Regions from separate parts of the Homo sapiens genome. Here all the other regions are linked to region 1. The links come from fine-mapping of genetic effects on gene expression. A gene starts in region 1. Each other region holds a variant in brackets. All regions are shown on one strand. Distances are between the middles of the regions.

Region 1 (6,900 bases):
AGGCACAGAAAGGTTAAGTAGCATGCCCCAGATCCCACTGCTGGGCAGGGAGCCAGGCAGTCTGGCTCTCCTAGCCACGGTGCCCACAGCTGCCAGGGACTGCCCGCCCCAGAGCTGGAGAGACATCAGCCTCATGGAAGGCAGAGGAGCGGTGGATAGGAATGGATTCTCATTACAAAATCTGAGCTGTGGGTCCAGCTGTGTCTGAAGCTAGAGTTAGTCACCTTAAGACTTTTGGTTATGAAAACCAGTAAGTCCACTTCTTTTCTCCTTAAGCTGGCTTGAGTTTTTTTCTTCTCTTTTTCCGTTGCTTGCAAGAGAAAGGAACCTGATTACTTTACAGTTCTTCTAGGCAAGTACCCCTAACTGATACTCCATTTGCAACTTGCACACAGCAGCTGCTCAGTAAACACCAGCAGATACGGATGGACTGCTCTCCCTTCCGGTCCATTCACTGCTGGATCTGTACCCTGACACCCAACTGTGGCCAGCCCAGCGCTTCTTCCCCTTTAGGCTCCAAGTGAGGCCTCGTTCCCTAGCAACCACCCCAATTAGGCAACCATGCCATTTATCGGGATGCCAATTAATTATAACGATCTTAATGCCCTCCCAATTAGACAGTGCCTTCAATCCGGCTGGGCCAGGGCTGTCTGTAGATCTCCACCAAGGCCCATTCCAAGGAGGCCCAGAGAAAGCAGGTTTCAGGGAGGGCCCCCTCACCTGCAGATCAGCATTGAGAGAGGCCCCCATCTTCCACATCCGCCCAGGCCTGACACAGAGCACCCTGGCACCACCCCCAGGGCCAGGCCATCGAGACTCCATCACCAACCACAGGAAGGTCTCACCTCTAGGAGAGCTTTTGCTCTCTGGCCACTGTGCTCTGAGTGGGCTGAAATCTTCACCATGGTTCACCTGGCTTTTCCATCAGCTGCATTTGATGTTTCCCTTTGCATTTTGACTGGGGGAGGGGACAGTGTGTCTGCTCATAAGCAGAAGAAAAAGCACCAGGCAGACACATGTTTTCCTTGGGGCAAAAAACCTCAAATACAAACCCGGACTCTCTGTCGGAACAGTGGGGGTTTATGGAAAGTTAAGGGCCTTTTACTTTGCAAAGTTTGACTGTCTGAAGGTGTTTTCTTCCCCTGCATATGTGTTTCTTCTACATCTGGGACAAAGGCCAAGGTCATGGAGGAGAGTCCAGTGGTTCCAAGTGGACCCCGGAGCTTGAGGGCCTCTTGAATCCCAGCTCTACCTGTGACCAGCTGTAGGCAAGTCACAATCCTCTCTGTGCCTGTTTCCTCATCTTTAATATGGCAACAATGGCAGTACTTACTTAACAGGGTATTTGTGTGGATTTAATGAGTAAGGTATAAGGGCTTAGATCAATGCCTCAGATCAGGCCCATACAAAACTACTTAAGTGTTACCAATTATCTTAAGTCTGGACTAAACCTTTTCTTTTAACTACAAGCTGGTCAGAAATGCTGATATTTTTCTGTAGGACAGGGCTTCTGGACTCCTTCTGCAGGACTAAAGTCTAAGGTCAGATAATGGCCAAAGCTTGACAGAGTTGGGTGATATTCTGCCTGGTTAACCCAGCTGCCCTCTTGAGGCAGGTCCAAGCAGATAAACTAACCAGTGCCAGAAAAAGTGAGAAGGAAATGTTATCTCCCAAATCAGGTCCAAATCAGGTGTGAAACTGCATATCAACTGGGTTCTTTGGACAGCAGCTGAACTGGGGGACATGCACGTGCATGCACACACACTGCTATGCTGTCCTCCTCCAAGACCAGACTTTTACAGTCAACTCATCACTCTACTCTCAAGTTTGAAAATTTAACATGTTATTAGGGTTTCAGAAAAAGCCATAAATTCAAATAAAAAACCCAAGAAGTACACACAAAGCCCAAACCCCAAACCCACATTGACCCTCAGCTGCAGCAGTGATGCCAACATCACGGCCTTTATGTATATAAATTTAGCTGGGGAAGGAAGAGGCCTTCATGTACAAAGGTCCAACATGCCATCTGCCAAGCCCACCACCTTCGCCTTTCAAGCTGCTTATTAGAACGCTAAATTACACATCCGACAGGCTGTCTGGATGAGTTTTCTCTTCTCTATGATGTGGGAGAGACGAAGCTGGGGAGAACATCTCTTACAGGGAAGGGGCCCCCTTCGTTCTGTCCTCCCTACCCCGTTCCTATACTTAACGATTGGCTCTAATTTAATTAGAACCCTCTGGTGGTTCTGTAATGGGAGGCAGAGGCTGTCAAGAAATCACCTTCACTATTCACTACAAGCTGAAATTTGGAGAGCGCGCAGATCCGGGGGTGTCCTCCAGAGAAAGCCCGTCTCTCCTGCTCCCTGTCTCCCCCTGAGAACCTGCTCCAGCGCAGCCTCCCCTTCTCTGCCCCAAAAGTGGGGGTGGACCCGGTGGGAAACAGGCAGGGGACAGATGGAGGGGCGAGAGGGCGGGTGTCCCAACACGCACAGATGAGCAAATACCCAGATTGAAACGTAAGCTGAATGTAATTACTTGGTTAATTAAATATTGACTTTTAACTCAAAAAGTGATTAAAACAAGCTGCAGGAAGACTTTCCAGAAAGGGGGGCAGGGAATGAATCAAAGCTTTCAAGGGGGAGGAGGAGGAGGAGAGGGTCGTCACAGGCAGGTCTGGCTTGCTCTTCCTACTGTGTGCTGGGCCTACTGCGTGCAGGTGGGGGAGTTGCGGACCGAGGCCAGTGTGCAAACTAGGATTGCAGGCTTCCCTTTCCATCTTCCACCCCGAGACGGCATCTCTCTACCCTGCTGCCCTCCCAGTGAACCGGCAGCTTCTGGCGCGCAGGAGCCAGATCCTGTTCAGCCGCGTTTCCCTGGAACAGAACGCGGTGCCCGGCACGAGGGGGTGCTCCAGAAATGCTTGTAGAACGAATGAACGAACTACTATAAGGAATGTTTGGAAAAGTGCACTCCTAGAATTCACCGCTAGACTTCTGAAACCCCGAGGAGCCGGGGAGGGGAGCATCCCTCCGCCAGGCGATGGAAACTCGTTCTGCCCTGGCCTGGGAGGAAGTCTGCCTTTTCGATCCTGTTTGTCCTTTCGGTGTCTGCGAGTTTCCAACCACTCTGAAGATCCGGCCCACTGCTTCCCCGAGTCCTGCCCGGACAAGCCCCACGTGGGCTGGCATCTACCGGTCCCTTGGGTCTAAACCCTAAGGGTCAACAAGGCCATGCCCCTGCGGATGGCCGGCCCAGGCGCGCTCCCCTACCCGGGGCCGCCTGTGCTCGGTGTGCCGTGTCCGCGGGTCAGGGGCGCGGCGGGAAGTCCTCGCCCGCCCGCCAGCCAGCGGGGTCAAACAGGTCATCCCTCTGCGGACGGCCGGCGCCGGAGCCTCCCTCCCGCCCGCCCGGACCCACCTCCGCAAGCAGCGCTGGGGCTGGAGCCGGGCGGTCCGGACCAGCCCCGGCTCACCTGGGCGGCGCTCGCGGCCGGGCTCACGCCGGGGAAGGCTCCGGCCGCCGCGAGCCCCCGCCCGAGCCCCGCGTCCCCCAGCCACCCACCTGCCCCCCACGCCCCACTCACCAGCGCGCACGGCCCCGGCAACCTCACCCGGAGCGGGGCGCCGCCGCCGCCTCTGCCGCAGCCCGGCCGGGCCGCTGGGCGCAGGGGACTCCGCGCCGCCGCTGCCGCTGCCGCCGCCGCCGCCGCCGCTGCCGCTGCTGCATCCCCCGGCGAGCGCTGCTGCTCCTCCTCCTGCCTCCTCCCCGCCCCCCAACGCCGCCGCCACCGCCCCCGGCCCCCTCCCCGCGCGCCGCCCCAGCCAAAGTCCGGCTCCGCACCCCGCCCGGACCGCTCTTAAATCGCCCCAGCCCGGCCGGCCACGCTGCCCCAGCCAGCCCCTTGGCACGGCGCTACCGCCCCCCGCTCGCCTGCCCGCCGGCCTCCACGCAGGGGAGGCGGGCGCGCTCCGGGGCGGGGAGCGTCGGGCCGGGAGCCGCGGACGGCTGGGGCCCGGGGCGCGGGGGGCCCAGCCGCGGTGCCCTCCTCGAGCCCTCCGCGCGCTAGCGCTTTTACCTCCGGCCTGGGGGACGCGCGGCCCGCGACCCGGCCCTGCCTGTCCCCGGCGCACGGCCCCGGCCCCGGCCCCGAAGTCCAGCTCCGGACGGGGCAGTGAACGCAGAGCTGGGGTCCCGGCGGCTCTCGACCTCCCGATGCCTCCGGACTCGGCTGGCCGCGCTCCCGGCGCCGAGCGCGCACCCTCGCCGGGACACACAGACGCACACTCACTCGACACACTCTCGCTCCTGCTCGCCCTCGGCGGAGAGTTGAAACAGATGTGGGATTCGCCCAGGAGCTGGAAACGAGGGAGGGAAGCGAGCCAGAGCCTTGTGTGCACGTGTGTGTGCGTAACACACAAACCAGGGGGCATCGCTAATAAATCAAATATCGTGATAAATTCAGGAGGGCCATCGATCAGGTCCACTTGGCTGGAAACGACGTGAATCTGCCTCTTTTCCGCTTTCTTCTTCTCCTCTCTCGGAGCTGGAGGGAGCCAAATGTTCCGCGGGGAGTGCGACAGCCCCGGCCGGGCGCTCCCCTCGTAATGACACGTTAATAAATGTTTTCTTTTATCTGCTTTCACAGGACTCGCCCCGGTCTGCAAACACTCGACTGCCTTTGCCGAAAGCCTCGCGCTCGCCTCCAGCCACACACATTTGCCATTGGAGAGGCCGGCGCCGGCCGCGACCCGCAGCTCAATCGCAGGGCAAACCGAGCTGCCTGTGCGCGCCCGAGAACTCCCCGAGAAATTAACTTCGGCTCAAGTGAAAATAGCAGCTGTTGTCCAGAAATGGCCCGGGAGTAGCATAGAAAGGAGAAACCGGCTTCCTCCGAAAGGGGAGGAATTGGACTCAAGGGGGTGCTGTCTACCGTGGTTTCCGCTGTCCCTCGCGCCACAGAAGAGGCCGGAGGGGGACCGGCCTGACGCGGGTGGGCAAAGAGCGGGCAGAGAACTCACCAGCAGCTGCAGAAAACACAGCCGAGTTGCTAGCTAAGGGGAAACAGACGCCGCTGTGGGAAAGCACTTGTAAACAGCAGTAACTTATTAAATCTTGTGACAATCTCACACAGTAAGTTACTATGCCCGTTTTACCATGGAAACCAAGAGAGGTTTAGTAACTGTCCGAAGATCACACAGTTATAAGTGGTGGATCCTGTGAAGCCAAGAAGCCTTAGCTCCCGGCTCATGCTCTTAAATCCTAGGATGTTTTTACTTTTCAACCTAGCATCTCCTTTCTCTGATATGATCCTCCATGGTAGAGTTGTCAGACTTAACAAATAAATATAGACATCCACGGGGAGGAAGTTAGTACTAAAAAATCATTCATTTTTAAATCTGAAATTCAAATCGGATCTCCTGACTGGGTTTGGAGCTCTAGGCTCCTCCCCATAACCTCTGTTAGCCACGCCAATCAAGTTAGAGCCTAAATAAATCAGAAAAACCTTGCACTTGCTTTTCCAAGTCAGGTGCTGGCCCTACCTTTGGCATCACTGATAAGGCTGAACAGCTCCCACCTTCTTTGCCCTGGGACAGAATGTCAGGCTTCACCATCATAGACCGAAAAATAATGGAGACCCCTCTCCTTCCGCCTCATCTCTGCAGAAGGACATATATATCATTTAGAATTTTCTAGTAGTGGCATTAGAAAGTAAAAAGAAACAGGTGAGGGCCGGGCACAGTGGCTCACGCCTGTAATCCCAGCAGTATGGAAGGCCGAGGTGGGCGGATCACTTGAGTTCAGGAGTTCCAGACCAGCATGGGCAACATGGTGAAACTCCATCTTTACAAGAAATACAAAAATTAGGCTGGGCATAGTGGCATGTGCCTGTGGTCCCAGCTACTCGGGAGGCTCATGTGGGAGGATCACTTTGAGCCTGGGAGGTGAAGGCTGCAGTGAGCCATGATTGTTCCACTGTACTCCAGCCTGGGTGACAGTCAGACCCTGTCTGAAAAAAGCAGGTGAAATTAATTTTAATATTAATAATATAGTTTACTTAACCTAGTATATCCAAAATCGATCTCTTCAACATGTAATCAATATAAAATTAATGAGATATTTTTACATTATTTTTTCTTACTAAGTTTTGTAATCTGGTGTACATTCTAAACTTACAGCACATCTCAATTGGGACCAGCCACATGTGGCTCAGGGGTCCCATGCTGGACAGTGCAACTCTGGCAGGTTCTGCGGTCAATGGCTGTTTCCACCGGGTCATTTCATGTAATCCTCCTGACAATCTTTCAAGCAAACTGATGCTCAGAGAGATAAAGGGTCTTGCCTATAGTCAAAAACTTGGCCAGTGGGATTTCAACCCTTTTGATGCTGTCCCTGGTTTGGGGACATGTACCCCACTGCAGAAGCAATTTTCTTACTGAATCCTCAGGGCCCCTTGGTGGTGCTTCTGGGGCCTGGGGTGGTGGAGGGAGGCCCAGGAATGGGATCTGCCTCCCTCCTACTTTTTATGTTGGGTTCTGGAGAATATTTCAGGGGTGGGGAAATTTCCACGGCAAAAAAAGTCTAAAAAAAACCCCACTGCATTACCACACTGTGCCCTTAGGTCCTCGAGTTCCTGAACATGGCTCTCCCATACCCATAAGGATCCTGCCCACAATGTTTCACTCCATCCTTCTCTGCTCGTCAGGTAACCCCAGTCAGAGAGGGGATGCTTACAATCCCTTCTTCTGGGGCTGTGGGCCTGGCGGACACGTGGCATTTGCTTATCTTTTTGGATATGTTGTTTCCATTGTTGCTGGACATTACCAAACATGGTAACGTCTATGTTGGCCCCTTATCCTTCCTTAAGTAGACGGGGACAGATCTTGTGTGTGCATGCATGTG
Region 2 (6,900 bases), 97 kb after region 1:
TCTCTGGCCCTTCCTGCCCTGTTTCTGTGTCAGTTTCCTTTGTAGCATTGTCATTGTCTGACTCAGTCTTTCCTGGGGATCCTGGAGACAATCATCTTAGCCCAGGTCTCCTCACCCAGAGCCAAGGCCAACTGAAAGAGTCAGTGCCTTTGGGGCGCAGTGCCTTCGGGGCAGATGCAGCCCCAGGGGTCCAGGGTGGGGAAACGGGAAGCGAGGTGGGGAGGCTGGGAAGTGATGACTGAGCTGATGACAGCCTCCCAAAGACCCAGCTGGTCACCAGGTCACGTGGAGCATTTCCAGACAAGCTGTGCAGAAACGCTCCCCACAGGATGGCCCATATGGGGATGGTTGGGAGGGGCCATTTATAGCTAATCTCTCTTTTTTCCTCTCCCTTGAGGGTGCAGGTTTGCTCTTCAGGGAGTCGTCTCTTTCTTTTCTTTTCTTTTCTTTTTTTTCTTGTTGAGACTGAGTCTTGCTCTGTCATCCAGGCTGGAGTGCAGTGGCATGATCTCAGCTCACTGCAACCTCCACCTCCAGGGTTCAAATGATTCTCCTGCCTCAGACTCCCGAGTAGCTGGGATTACAGGTGCCTACCACCATGCCTGACTAATTTTTGTATTTTTAGTAGAGACGGGGTTTCACCATGTTGGGCCAGGCTGGTCTTGAACTCCTGACTTCAAGTGATCCACTTGCCTCGGCCTCCCAGAGTGCTGGGATTACAGGCATGAGCCACCACACCTGGCCGAGTCTTCTCTTTCTTAACACCAGGGTGCATCACCCAGTCCCTTGGCAGCTGCTGGGGAATCCAGATCCCACGCTCATTTTTGTGGCAACTTAGCTGAATCCAGAATTGGTGGAGGATCCAGAATCTTGGGGCGTCGGTCTCAGGCCGTGTGTGGTGTAAGGCCTGAAACTGAAGTGTAATATTAAGTACGGCCTTGATGTCTTTGAGCTTCACAGGGCTGCAGAGGCCAAACTACTAGTTCCCTTCCCTCACCAATATGCTCCCAGCTCAGTGGGAAAGACTCCCACCTGGTAGGTTTACCTGTCAACTGGAGCAGCCACGCTCCACCTGGTCCTCAGCTTAACTGGCTTCACCTCTCTGCCCACAGGAACCAGGGGTACCTCACCCCGTTGTTACTTCAAGGTCTGCCTCCCACAGCCCCTCCTGTTCTCTCTGTTCCCAGGTGCACACCCTGTGGCTCTGCAGGGCGCGTGTTATCCTCCCCTGCGGGCTGTATTTGTGGCCGACCCACTGCCCGTCTCATGTGTGCAGCGCTGGGTGTTGTGTGCTCGGCCATCTCATACTATTTAGGGCGAGGATGCATCCCTCACCGATGGGGTGAACGGGAGGTAGTCGGAACACAGTGGTGTCCTGTGGACCTGCGCTGAGTCAGTTCCTGCAGTGGAAGCTGGGGAAACCAGAGGTGACACGCTGCATGGGTCTGATACACAGCCCGGAGAGTTTGCATCTCATTTGCTTGACAGTTTTTCTCTAGTGGAAAATATACTTATTTTTTTTTCTTTTTCTTTTCTTTTCTTTTTTTTTTTTTTTGAGATGGAGTCTCACTCTGTTGCCCAGGCTGGAGTGCAGTGTCACGATCTTCGCTCACTGCAAGCTCCGCCTCCTGGGTTCACACCATTCTCCTGCCTCAGCCTCCCGAGTAGCTGGGACTACAGGTGCCCACCACCACGCCTGGCTAATTTTTTGTATTTTTAGTAGAGACGGGGTTTCACTGTGTTAGCCAGAGTGGTCTCAATCTCCTGACCTTGTGATCCACCTGCCTTGGCCTCCCAAAGTGCTGGGATTACAGGCATGAGCCACCGCGCCTGGCCCAAACTACTTTTTAATGAATGGCCTCTTCGGAAACTGCTCAAGGGGGAAAGATGACTCTGGTTCTTGCAGCCAAAGTCTGTTTCCCTTTGCACTAAGACTGATTTGTAATACTCATCATAGCCGTTCATTTTACTTTTGTGGAATGAATTCCAGGAGAATTTCTCTTTTACAAGCCTATCAAATATTAGGTGGTTTTGAGCAAGAGCTTTCATAAGCAGTGTGTCAGGCTAACCCGCAATAATGTGAGAAATTTAAAAAATAATTTGATTATTTTCCTTACCTCTGCCTCCCCAGTGAATGGGATGACGTGAAAAGTGTGATGGGGATGACTTCAGAGGCAAGGCTCCGTCTTCACAGAGAGAGGCCATGCAGCCTGGCTTCACCCAGTCAGACCACATCTGTGATTTTCTTGCTCTCCTTTTAGCCTGACACACTTTGTTTCTTCATTTCACTTTGATTTTTGAGATATAAATCGAAATCCACATACAATTCACACTTTAACAGTATAAAATTCAGTGTTTTTTAGTATTTGCAAGGTTGTGCAACCTTCAATATCAAATCCCAGAACATTATTATTGCCAAAAAGAAACCTTGTACCCATTAGCAGTCATTCTCCAACTGTCCTAGGGAATTACTAATTTATTTTCTGTCTCTATGGACTTGGCTGTTATGGACATTTCATAAATGGGACCATATACGATGTGATCTTTTGTGTCTGGCTTTTTTCACTTGCTATAATGTTCTCAAGGTTCATTCACATTGTAGCATGAATCAGCATTTCATTCCTTTTTATGCCTGAATAATATTCCATTGCATGGATAACTGTCATTTTTGTTTGTTTGTTTTATTATGTGTTTTTGAGACAGGGTCTTGCTCTGTCACCCAGTCTGGAGTACAGTAGCATAATCTCAGCTTGCTCCAACCTCCACCTCCTGGGTTCAAGCGATTCTCATGCCTCAGCCTCCTGAGTAGCTGGGATCACAGGCATATGCCACTACACCGTGCTAATTTTTGCACTTTTAGTAGAGATGGGGTTTCACCATGTTGTCCAGGTTGGTCTTGAACTCCTGGTATCAAGTGATCTGCCTACCTCGGCCTCCCAAAGTACTGGGATTACAGGCATGAACCACCACACCCAGCCTACTCTTTTGGTTTGAAGTGAGGAACAATTCAAGTTACCTTAAACAAACAAACAAAAGAATGTTAGGCCTCACGTCACTGAAGAGTCCAGAGGTGTGGTGGGCAGATTCCAGAATGATTCCCAATGACCCTTGTCCTTGAAAAGCCTCTTCCCCTTGAGTGTGGGTGGAGCTTGTGAATAGGCTACTACTCCTGTGACATCATATGACAA[C/T]GGGGATTGTGCAGATCTAATTAAGGCTATTAGTCAATTGACTTTGAGGTAATCAGAAGGCAGATTAGCAGGTGGACCTGACCTAATCACACTAGCTGTTTGAATCTGGGCCTAGAGATCAGAGACAGAAGTTAGGAATTCATATCACAAGAGTGATTCAAAATGCCATTGACTTAAAAATGGAGGGGCCCAAATGCCAAAGACTCGGGAGGCCTCTAGGAGCCGAGAGTGGTTCCTGGCCAGAAGATGGGAATCTTGGAACCTTAGTCTTTTCATGTTTTGTTTTGTTTTGTTTTGTTTCTCTGCACCCCCATGTTTATTGCAGCACAACACACAATAGCCAAAATATGGAATCAACCTAAGCGCCTGTCAGTGGGTGAATGGATTTAAAAAAGTGTTCTATACACAATGGGTTATTATTCAGCCATAAACAAGAATGACATCCTGTCATTTGCAGCAACATGGATGGAGCTAGAGGCCATCACTTTAAGTGAAATAAGCCAAGCACAGAAAGACAAATATCACATATTCTCACTCCCATGTGGGAGCCACAAAGGTGAATCTCGTGAAGATAGAAAGTAGATTGGTGTCTACCAGAAGCTGGGAAGGGTAGGGGGTGGGGGCATGAAAAGAAGTTGATTAATGAGTATGAATCCAAAGTCAGATGGAAGAAATATTTAGTATTGTGTAGATCAGTAGGGTGACTACACTTTACAATAAACTATTGTACATTTCAGAATACCTAGAAGGGGGAGCCTTAGTCTTGTAACCAAATGGAATTAAATTGTGCCAACAACATGAACTAGCTTGGAAGCAGATTTTACCCCCAGAGCCAATAAGAACTCAATACCTTGTTCTCAGCCTTGTGAGACTTTGAGCAGAGCCCAGTACTGCTGGGCCGAACTTCTCACCTGCAGAATTATGGACTAATAAATGGGTGTTGTTTTGAGCCATTAAGTGCATGGCAATTTGACACAGGAATAGAAAACTAACACAAAAGGCCAGCTGCCTTCAGGTACTGCTGCATCCGGGTGCTCAGATGACATCAGGAGGCCTTCCTGTCTCTGCGTCTCTCCAGGCTCATTTGCTTAGACTTGTTGGTGCATTTGGAGGATGGCTCTCTCCTTGTGGTGATGACGCCTCCAGGAGCCCCTCTTCCTTCTCCCAGCTTACCTATCCCAGGGGAAAGGAAGCCTCCTTTGCCATTCATACAACAGCCCTTGGATAAAGTTTCATTTGAAGGGTGATTTTCACAAGCTCCTCCCTAAACCAATTGCCACAGCAAGGCTTAAGCCCTGGACTGAGCGAGCAGGGCTGGGTCCACCCCACCCATGGATGGAGAGCTGGGGAGGGGTCGCTTTTCCAAAGGGGACTCAGGACCCAGAAGGAGCAGCAGGTGCTGGGTGGGAAAACCAAGGGTGTCCCCCACACTCATGCATCTGTCTCTCCTGCAGCTCATGGGGCACAGCCTGCGCTACCTCCTCTGTCCTGGAGGACCCAGTGCCCATCCTCCATGGCTCCAGGATGGAGCTGGCCCTCCCACAGCCCTCACCATGGGCTGTGGAGGACAGGGTGTTGAAGGGACAACGATTCAGGTCCTGATCAGACATCCGGCTGGAGCCCTGACACTGGGCATCTCCTCATCCTCCTCGGCCATGACTGACTCTTCCTTGTCATTTCTGAGATGGTGGAAGGGAGACTTTGGAGCATCTGGGCAGGCCCTGGTGAAATGGCTCTACTCTAGACTTTTTGAAAAACTAAAAAATCACTTTAGGGTCTTAGAGAGCCATGCAAGGGAGAGACTTCAGTGTAGCTGGATGAAGACAAACTTGGGCACTTGGTTGTCCCTTCAGAGCTGGGTCTCGGAGCTTTCATGGAGTGCCCCGGGGAATACACAGGCTCAGGAGTCAGACCCCATGGGCTCAGGTCCCAGCTCTGCCTCTTACAGCGCTGCAACCTTGTATAAGTTACTTTAGCTGTGCCTCAGTTTCTTCATATGTAAAATGGATCTGATAATAATGCCCACCTGAAAGTGTGGGTGTGAGGATGAAATGAGCGAACATGTGCTTAGTGTGGTACATAGTGAGTGCCTGCTGAATGCACCTGCCATGATGCTGAGTGTGAGTGCCTGCTGAATGTGACCTGCCATGATGCTGAGTGTGAGTGCCTGCTGAATGCACCTGCCATGATGCTATCTGAGTGTGAGTGCCTGCTGAATGTGACCTGCCATGATGCTATCTGAGTGTGAGTGCCTGCTGAATGTGACCTGCCATGATGCTATCTGAGTGTGAGTGGCTGCTGAATGCACCTGCCATGATGCTGAGTGTGAGTGCCTGCTGAATGCACCTGCCATGATGCTATCTGAGTGTGAGTGCCTGCTGAATGTGACCTGCCATGATGCTATCTGAGGTGTGTGAGGATGAAATGAGCTAACATGTGCTTAGTGTGGCACATAGTGAGTGCCTGCTGAATGCGCCTGCCATGATGCTGAGTGTGAGTGCCTGCTGAATGCACCTGCCATGATGCTGAGTGTGAGTGCCTGCTGAATGTGACCTGCCACGATGCTGAGTGCACATTTCTGCTGAGATAGTTAATTCTTAGGTCCATTTCAAAGATCAGGAGCCTGTGACCAAATGTTCAGTACTTCTGGAAAACACTTCCATTTATGCTGTCTCTGAATTGGCAGCATTAGGAATGAAAGAGAGATAAATTAGATCATCCAAGATGATTGCTCTGAATGCCCTCCTCAGGAGCTCTTTACAGTGTTACCTCCTAATGTACACTGAAACCGTGCTTGGTGCTGTCCTAGCCAAGGCTAGGGAAAGAAGGGAACTAACCTCCTCAGTTATTGGCCTAAGCATCTCATAACCTACCAGGTAGGGCACAAGATGTTATATCTGTGCCGTTTCCTTTACTGTTACATCAACTTTTGCGGCATCACATGCATTTTGTGGATGAGTAAACTGAAGTCCAGGGAAGTTAAGTAACTTGCCCAAGGTCACCCAGAAAGTATCGGAGCTAGATTTGAATCTATGATGGTCTGCTTCCAAGGGCCAGAGGATTTCAGCTCTACATCAGTTTTATTTTTTCCCAGAGAAACAAGAGAGAAGCTGAGGGCACCATCTGCGGTGGATTCGGGCTGTGGGATTGCTGAATAGTGTCTACATTTGTATTAAGGAGTCATTTTGAGAGAACATTTCGAAGGCTCTCCAATCCATAGCACAGTGTTTTACCATCATTTGTCTCCAGGTGCATTGGGAACCATGTATTCACTCCAGGTGGTTTGAGAGGGAATGTGGCATTGCCCTTTCCTTGTTTCTCAGAATCCTTATTTCCTCTCCTCATTTTGCCCCTTTCTCCACAACGTTCTTTTCAAGACTTTGAGTTTGGGCAAGAATCGGGCAATAGGTTGCATTGTCAGGGGCTTAATGCCTCAGATTTTCTAAGGCAGTCCTGCTTGCCAACCTTCTGTTCCCGGCTCATTTCTGATCTGAGACCCAGGTTGTGTTGGTGGCTTTGGTGACTGCAGAACCACTGCTCTGGAGCCATTCACTCCACAGTGAGGTTGACACCCTGAGTCCCACAGGCCCCCTCTATTGCACCCACACTCTGTTGTGTTGGTGTGGCCAAAGAAGAGGAGGACAGAGAAGCTTCCCCAGAGATCTCTCCATGCTCCTCACAAGTGGTTTTTTTTTTGAGATGGAGTCTGTCA
Region 3 (6,900 bases), 49 kb before region 1:
GCCCTCAACCACTCTGCAGAGAGCTGGGAGGTGTCTCATTCTGGGAACACTGTACAACTTTGACTTGTGGATATATAAGTGATCACAGGCAGGGCAACAGCACTTCAACTGCTGAACTGTGTTAAAGGATGACTATAAAACCTTTGTAAAAACTGAGGATGTGGCGAGGTGCAGTGGCTCACACCTGTAATCCTAGCCCTTTGGGAGGCCGAGGAGGGTGGATCGCTTGAGGTCAGGAGTTCGAGGTCAGCCTGGCCAACATGGTGAAACCCCGTCTCTATTAAAAATACAAAAAATTAGCTGGGCGTGGTGGCACGCACCTGTAATCCTAGTTAGTGGGGAGGCTGAGGCAGGAGAATCGCTTGAACCCGGGAGGTGGAGGTTGCAGTGAGCTGAGATTACGCCACTGCACTCCAGCGTGGGCAACAGAGTGAGACCCTGTCTCAAAAACAAACAAAAAAACAAAGAAAACAAAAAACCTGAGGATGCAATTGATCCTTCCAAGGGTATTCATATCTGAGATCCAAGTCCCTCAAGTTGTAAGAAGCCATACAGAGAAATATTCATGAACAAATTGATATTTATCCTGCTTAAACTTAGCTTCTCTCATTTTGTCTTTTGTCAATCTCCACTGCAAACATGGGGCCATGCAAAGCAAGATCACTGCAAAATGAAATTGCAAATATTTTAAAAGATGCAGGGTTTGTAAAATTAATTAAAATGACGCTGGAAGATAGCTCAAAAAACACATGCAAATCCACTGACGAATAATTACCTGGTCTATAAAGATACTACATGAAGGAGAAGAGACTATTGAGAAGGATGATGAAGTATGAGATGCACTTCACAGGGGAAGATTCAGATGTCAGAGAATTAGGAGAGGCCCTTGAAAAAATTGATCAAATCCTCAAATACTTTTGCAAAAATGTCCCTAGTGAAGTAAAGGATATCATCTTGTGCCATCCATTTCAATTTGTGAAACACATTATATTCCTCCCTACACTTCGTCAATTCACTTGCTTGAAGAATCAACTCATTAGTTGCAACTAGAGCCCAATATTTGTTAAATATCATTAGATGCAACCTAACAGAGGGCCGGGTGCGTTGGCTCATGCATGTAATCCCAGCACTTTGGAAGGCCAAGGCAGGTGGATCACTTGAGGCCAGGAGTTTGAGACCAGCTTGGCCAACATGGCAAAACCCCATCTCTACAAAAAATACAAAAATTAGTCAGGCGTAGTGGCAGGCGTCTGTAATCTCAGCTATTCAGGAGGCTGAGACAGGAGAATCGCTTGAACCCAGGAGGCAGAGGTTGTAGTGAGCTGAGACTGTGCCACTGCACTCCAGTCTGGGTGACAGAGCAAGACTCTGTCTCAGAAAAAGAAAAAAAGAGATGTAACATAACAGAGTTATTCTCGAAACATTGTAGTTTCATTTCAAGATCAAATACCTTACTAAATACATTAAAAGCACTATTTATTATGAAATGTTGGTCCACTTAAGTAGCATTTTTCTGGGGTCAGTCTTCCTCAGTTTGGGCTGATCTCCTCTATTCAAACGAGTATCACAAACACAAATGGCTAATAACTGTTAGGGTGGCCTAGACTTCACTTGTCCTTCAGTATCCGTTTTCTTCTTCTCCCACAGTAAAATAACTTTCATCTGGGCAAATGTCCACCTAGAATAAGACTACATTTCCCAGGCCCCTTTGCTGCCATGCATGGCCATATGACTTGTTTCTCACCAATGGGAAATAAGGAGAAATGGAGTCGGAGTCTCTGACCACTTCATAGAGCAGGGCCACCAGAACAACTTGGAATTTTATTTGACATCCCCGGTCTCTCTCACACACACAGCCAAACTTAAATCCAACTGAACCAACTTTGCTAGGTGGCCACGTGAACACAGGGTTTAACATGGCTGAAGACTCAGCAGGAACAATTTACTTTTGGTCCTTGGGGGATTAAAAATTTACAGTATATTCTAATATGTATGTACAAATCAATCTAAAAGGAAAAAATAATCTAAAAGGTTTTGAATTCATTATAGATTTTTGTCATTTTTCTTAGTCAACACTGATCAGTATAACATATCACGCAGTTGGATCTTTAAAAACATTTCCACTTTAAACAACAACTCAATATAAAACTCAAACCTGAGCTTCCTAGCTGCCAGGGCAAAGAGGGAAACTATACAGGGTATGTGGCTCTTATTATGTAATAACAAGGAGTACACCAGTTCATCAGACTAAACAGGTGTTTTCAGGGTCCTGAGTTCTGAAAGTAAGGCTGGAATGGGATTCTTTGTACAGAGTGGCATTCTAAATATAATGAATAAAATTCTCAGTGGCAGTTTTACAAAAACGTAAATGTTCTCGGTATCTGGCTCTTTACACTTGACATTACGCTCCCAGTCTTCATGAGGGTATAATAATGAATCATAGTTGAATAAAAGCACTTATTTAGGGAGACAGCTTTTTGGTGATTTGCATACATTCAAGGACAAGTTTGGGAAATCCACTTTAGAGAATGTTTATTCTTGAAATGATTGATTTTCTCATGTCGCCTGTAAGATTTTGAAACACTAGCCTTTAGCTCCCACCCTGAGCCCTCAAAATGGCACAGAATATATGAGTTTCCTTTCAGTCTGATGAATACTATTTCCATGCCCCCTCTGAATTCCCATGATCTTGCATTCCATTTTGATTATGCCACAAACACCTCACTTTGACTCTGGGCAGGTCTCTTTTTTGGGCTGCAGTGGCCCTGGCTGTGAAATGAGGGGGATTGATGAGAACAGGTCTAGGGTCTTTACTGATCTTCCAGCATCCAAAACGAAAGGTTTCTGTACAGACCTTTCACCCAGAGGTTGTGAAAAGAGAGTCTGTGAGCCACACACTCACTCCTCAGACATATTTTCTTTGGCCCCCAGTATACATTAAAGAAAAAATAAGCTGTGCCGGCATATTTTAAAATAAGATTTTCAGTGAAATATTCAGACTTTAAAACATTTCAAGGCTGGTCACTCTTGAGTGCATGGCTGTACTTTCTAGAGCCAAGTTGCAGGTGCATCTTCAATAAGGGCCCACTGCTGTGCTGCGGGCCTGCCTGTCCTGCTTCTGCTAGCAACATCCAGGCCCCCGCCAATCATCTAGGGTGGTGGCCATGGTAACTTCTGACACATGTGGCTTTCTGCAGAGGCTCAGGGGAACCAACAGGTGGTTGATTCTGCATAATGGCACGCACAATACACAGGAACAAGGTATAGGAACGAGGCCTTCCTAGTTCTCAGCAGAACATACTTTCTAGGTGATTCTGGCTATGGGATGAGGCTGTAAGAAGACACACCTTACTGGCTTGCTCCCCACACCAAAGCATCCCTGCCAGCCCACACTGTGTATCTGAGAGGAAGCTGCCCAGCCTCGAGGGCTGCAGGTCCAGCACTGCGGACAGGGCTGGAGGAGGAGTCCATCCTTCCCTTGCGGCACTCCCACCCAAACAAACCCCTTGTCACTTGGATGCAACTTCCTGGGGTTGCAACATCTGAGCCACAATATCTTGATTTCACAACCGCCGCGGCTTCTTACCCAAGGCGGGGAGTATTTATTTATTTTTAATTAAAGCAAGTTAAATGAATTGAGTCTGGAGGGTTTTGCAATGGCGCTACAGGTAAGTGACTATACTGTAATTGCATCTCTACCTCAGACAACCAGCCTGGCAGGTGAGCCTTCAGAGCCCACCAAAGACCTCCTGAAGGATAAGCAAACAGGAACTGGGTCGCCCTCCACCCAGGATGACACGGGTGAGTGTGGACAGTCAACCACCATGTCAGTTTCTGCACCACCTTGGTTACTGCCACGTAGAAAGCGACCACACAGCCCCATTATCTGTTCCCCTCCATGAATTCCCATCCCCCACCCCTATGTTTTGGAACCTTCTTCCAAGCTAATGGTTTGAAGTCAACGAAACAGTCCCTGATGGGCTTAATAACTATTAACAGAGGATGCAAACTCATGCATGGGCACCTTATGGCCTCTCCACACTATGATTCATAGTTTGAAAAGACTCACTTTTTTGGGGGACTCAAATTCCTTTGACAAGGTCACTTTACATCACTACTGTAGGCAAATAAATCTGTATTTCTTTAATACACACAGAAATAAATGCACAACTCTGAAATTATAAGAGAGTTGCTCTAGGGGCTATCCAGAATCAACT[T/C]GGGTACCGCAGTGGTGTGCAGACCACACCTAGGGACGCCCGCCCTGGCTGTCACTCCCTTCCTGCACCTGCCCCCGTCCCTGCTCACCTGTCCGGTAGCCAGTGCTATTGAGGTACACGGCAAAGGTGCGGCTCTCGTGCTGTGCCTGCCAGGAGGGCGAGGAGCAGTTCTCATTGTTGGTGTAGGTGTTGTGGTTGTGGACGTACTTGCCAGTGAGGATGGAGGAGCGTGAGGGGCAGCACATGGGTGTGGTCACGAAGGCGTTGATGAAGTGCGCCCCGCCCTGCTCCATGATGCGCCGGGTCTTGTTCATCACCTGCATGGAACCTGCAAGTCAAGGGTGGAAGTAAGGCGCAGGGCAGGAGACCCGGGCGGCACCGGCACCAGGGGGCTCTCAGCACGTGGCATCCCTAGGTCTGGAGTGGGCACATTCTGCAGACCTACGGGGCAGACGGGGCAGGGGCCACTGCTGCACGGTGGGACTGTCCTGCATAATCAGGAAGGACCCTGGGTCCCGAGTCCACCTGGACACTCCTGAGGTCCAGGTCTGGAGTCTGGAGGATTTTGCAATGGTGCTGGAGGTGAGTGACTGTAAGTGACTGTACTGTCACTGTCCGGTACTGTAATTGCATCTCTACCTGCAAGGCAGGTAAAAACCTGTTTATAAATGACCTGAGACTGGAATCAAACTGTTTTACAAATTTTAAACACAACATTGTTTTTGCAGGGTATTAATATACATTGTTTTGTTTTTTCTTTTGGAAACCAACCACCATGTAAATTGAGGGAAGATTATACTTTCTTTTCTTTGGAACTTTCCCAATAATTGTTTGCTCTTACTGAAATCTGGTCATGCCAACCTGGTGGCAAACCTTCTCCCTGAGTATTCCCTGGCTGAGGTGCTCTGCCATCAGCCACAAACCCTGCTGGCCTCTTGTCCACACTTTTCTTCGAGCCTGGAACCCACCACCCCTCACCCCAAATCCAACCCATCGGCCTAGTACCCTCTCGTAGGGAGCCTCTGGCACCACCCTGGGCTTGAGAGCTCTGAGCAGTCTTGCAGCATGTGTCCTGAGTACTGATCATACCCCAGGCTTCGAGGTTTCGGTCATGCCTGCTCTTGTTTCTTTCTTTTCTTTGTTTTTTTTTTTTTTTTTTTTTTTTTGAGACAGAGTCTTGCTCTGTTGCCCAGGCTGGAGTGCAGTGGTGTGATCTTGACTCACTGCAATCTCTGCTTCCCGGGTTCAAGCGATTCCCCTGCCTCAGCCTCCCAAGTAGCCCCTATACGCAGCTAGTTTCTGTATTTTTAGTAGAGATGACGTTTCGCCATGTTGGCCAGGCTGGTCTGGAATTTCTGACCTCAAGTGATCCGCCTGCCTCTGCCTCCCAAAGTGCTGTCATTACAGTCATGAACCACCTTGCCTGGCCATGCCTGCTCTTGTTTCTCAACCAAGCTGTAAGCAGAGCAAGACACTTAGGAAGAAAGGCAAGAAGGAAGGAAGGAAGCAAATGAACGTGTGTGGGAGCCCTACTGCGTGCAGGCCAAGGTCCCAGGAGGGCAAAGGCTGTGTGCTCCGCTCAGCGCTGAATCCTCAGCACTGCTGCCGTGTGTGACACACAGTGGGTACTCAACATAGGTGTGACGAGTGCATGCTCAATTGTATGCTGTGGTTGGTACCCAGACCCTTAGTGATTTGATGGAAATATTCCATGGAAACCCTCTCTCCTTCTTCTATGGCCATCCTTGGTTTTTCCCCTTTTCCTTGCAGTTCTTAAGGTGTGCAGTGGGTTGAACGGTGCCCCCGTCCCCTAAAGATAAGACCATGTCCTAATTTCTGGAAGCTGTGAATGTGACCATATTTGGAAAGAGGGTGATATGGTTTGGCTGTGTCCCCACCCAAATCTCATCTTGAATTGTGGCTCCCATATTTCCCACGTGTTGTGAGAGGGATCTGATGGGAGACAGTTGAATCATGGGGGTTGTTTCCCCCATACTGTTCTCTTGGTAGTGAATAAGTCTCACGAGATTTGATGGTTTTATAAAGGTTTTCCCTCTTGCTTGGTTCTCATTCTCTCTTGCCTACCGCCATGTAAGATGTGCCTTTCACCTTCTGCCATGATCCTGAGGCCTCCCCAGCCACATGGAACTAAGTCCATTAAACCTCTTTTTCTTTCTAAATTACCCAGTCTCGGGTATATCTTTATCAGCAGCATGAAGACAGACCAATACAGGGTGTCTTTGCAGATGTAATTAAATTGAGGCTACTGAAATGAGATTTGTTCTGGATTCCCCAGGTGGGCCCTAAATCCAGTGACAAGTGTCCACATAGGACACAAAGTGGAGAAGACGCACAGGCACAGAGGGGAAGGCCACATTCAAAGGGAAGCAGAGACTGGAGGGATGCACATACAAGCCAAGGAACAAGGAACTCCTAGGGTCCCCAGGGCTGGAAGAGGCAAGGAAGGGCTCTCCCCTAGAGCCTTCTGAGGAAGCACAGCCATGCTAACACCTTGATTTTGGACTTCCGGCCTCCAGAACTGTTGAGAGAGTAAATTTCTGTTGTTTTAAGCCACCCAGTTTGTGATCTGTTAGGACAGCAGTGGGAAACCAAAACAGGGTCTACCAGGCATGTGAAGGCTGTGATCCCAATCACCTAGCAACCCCCTAGAAACCTGAAAACA

What was found. PIP is the estimated chance that this variant, and not a neighbour inherited with it, causes the effect.
Region 2: its variant is the best candidate, but not a certain one, in a credible set for the expression of SULF2 in testis (GTEx, PIP 0.51).
Region 3: its variant is the best candidate, but not a certain one, in a credible set for the expression of SULF2 in whole blood (INTERVAL, PIP 0.74).

Annotation. Positions count from the first base shown.
Region 1 is chr20:47,781,760-47,788,659 of GRCh38, forward strand. It overlaps SULF2 (sulfatase 2), which reads right to left and starts at 3,722. Exons shown (of 21, transcript NM_001387048.1): 1 at 3,584-3,722. LOC124904920 (a long non-coding RNA gene) reads left to right here and starts at 3,995. Exons shown (of 2, transcript XR_007067618.1): 1 at 3,995-4,403; 2 at 4,646-5,126. LOC124904921 (a long non-coding RNA gene) reads right to left here. Exons shown (of 3, transcript XR_007067619.1): 3 at 5,581-5,657. RefSeq lists enhancers at 681-740, 4,840-5,009.
Region 2 is chr20:47,878,667-47,885,566 of GRCh38, forward strand. No RefSeq gene overlaps it. Among named protein-coding and RNA genes, the nearest start is that of SULF2, 97 kb to the left of the region's middle. The variant C/T (reference allele first, on the strand shown) is at 3,189.
Region 3 is chr20:47,732,398-47,739,297 of GRCh38, forward strand. SULF2 (sulfatase 2) reads right to left here. Exons shown (of 21, transcript NM_001387048.1): 3 at 4,306-4,545. Among named protein-coding and RNA genes, the nearest start is that of SULF2, 50 kb to the right of the region's middle. The variant T/C (reference allele first, on the strand shown) is at 4,218.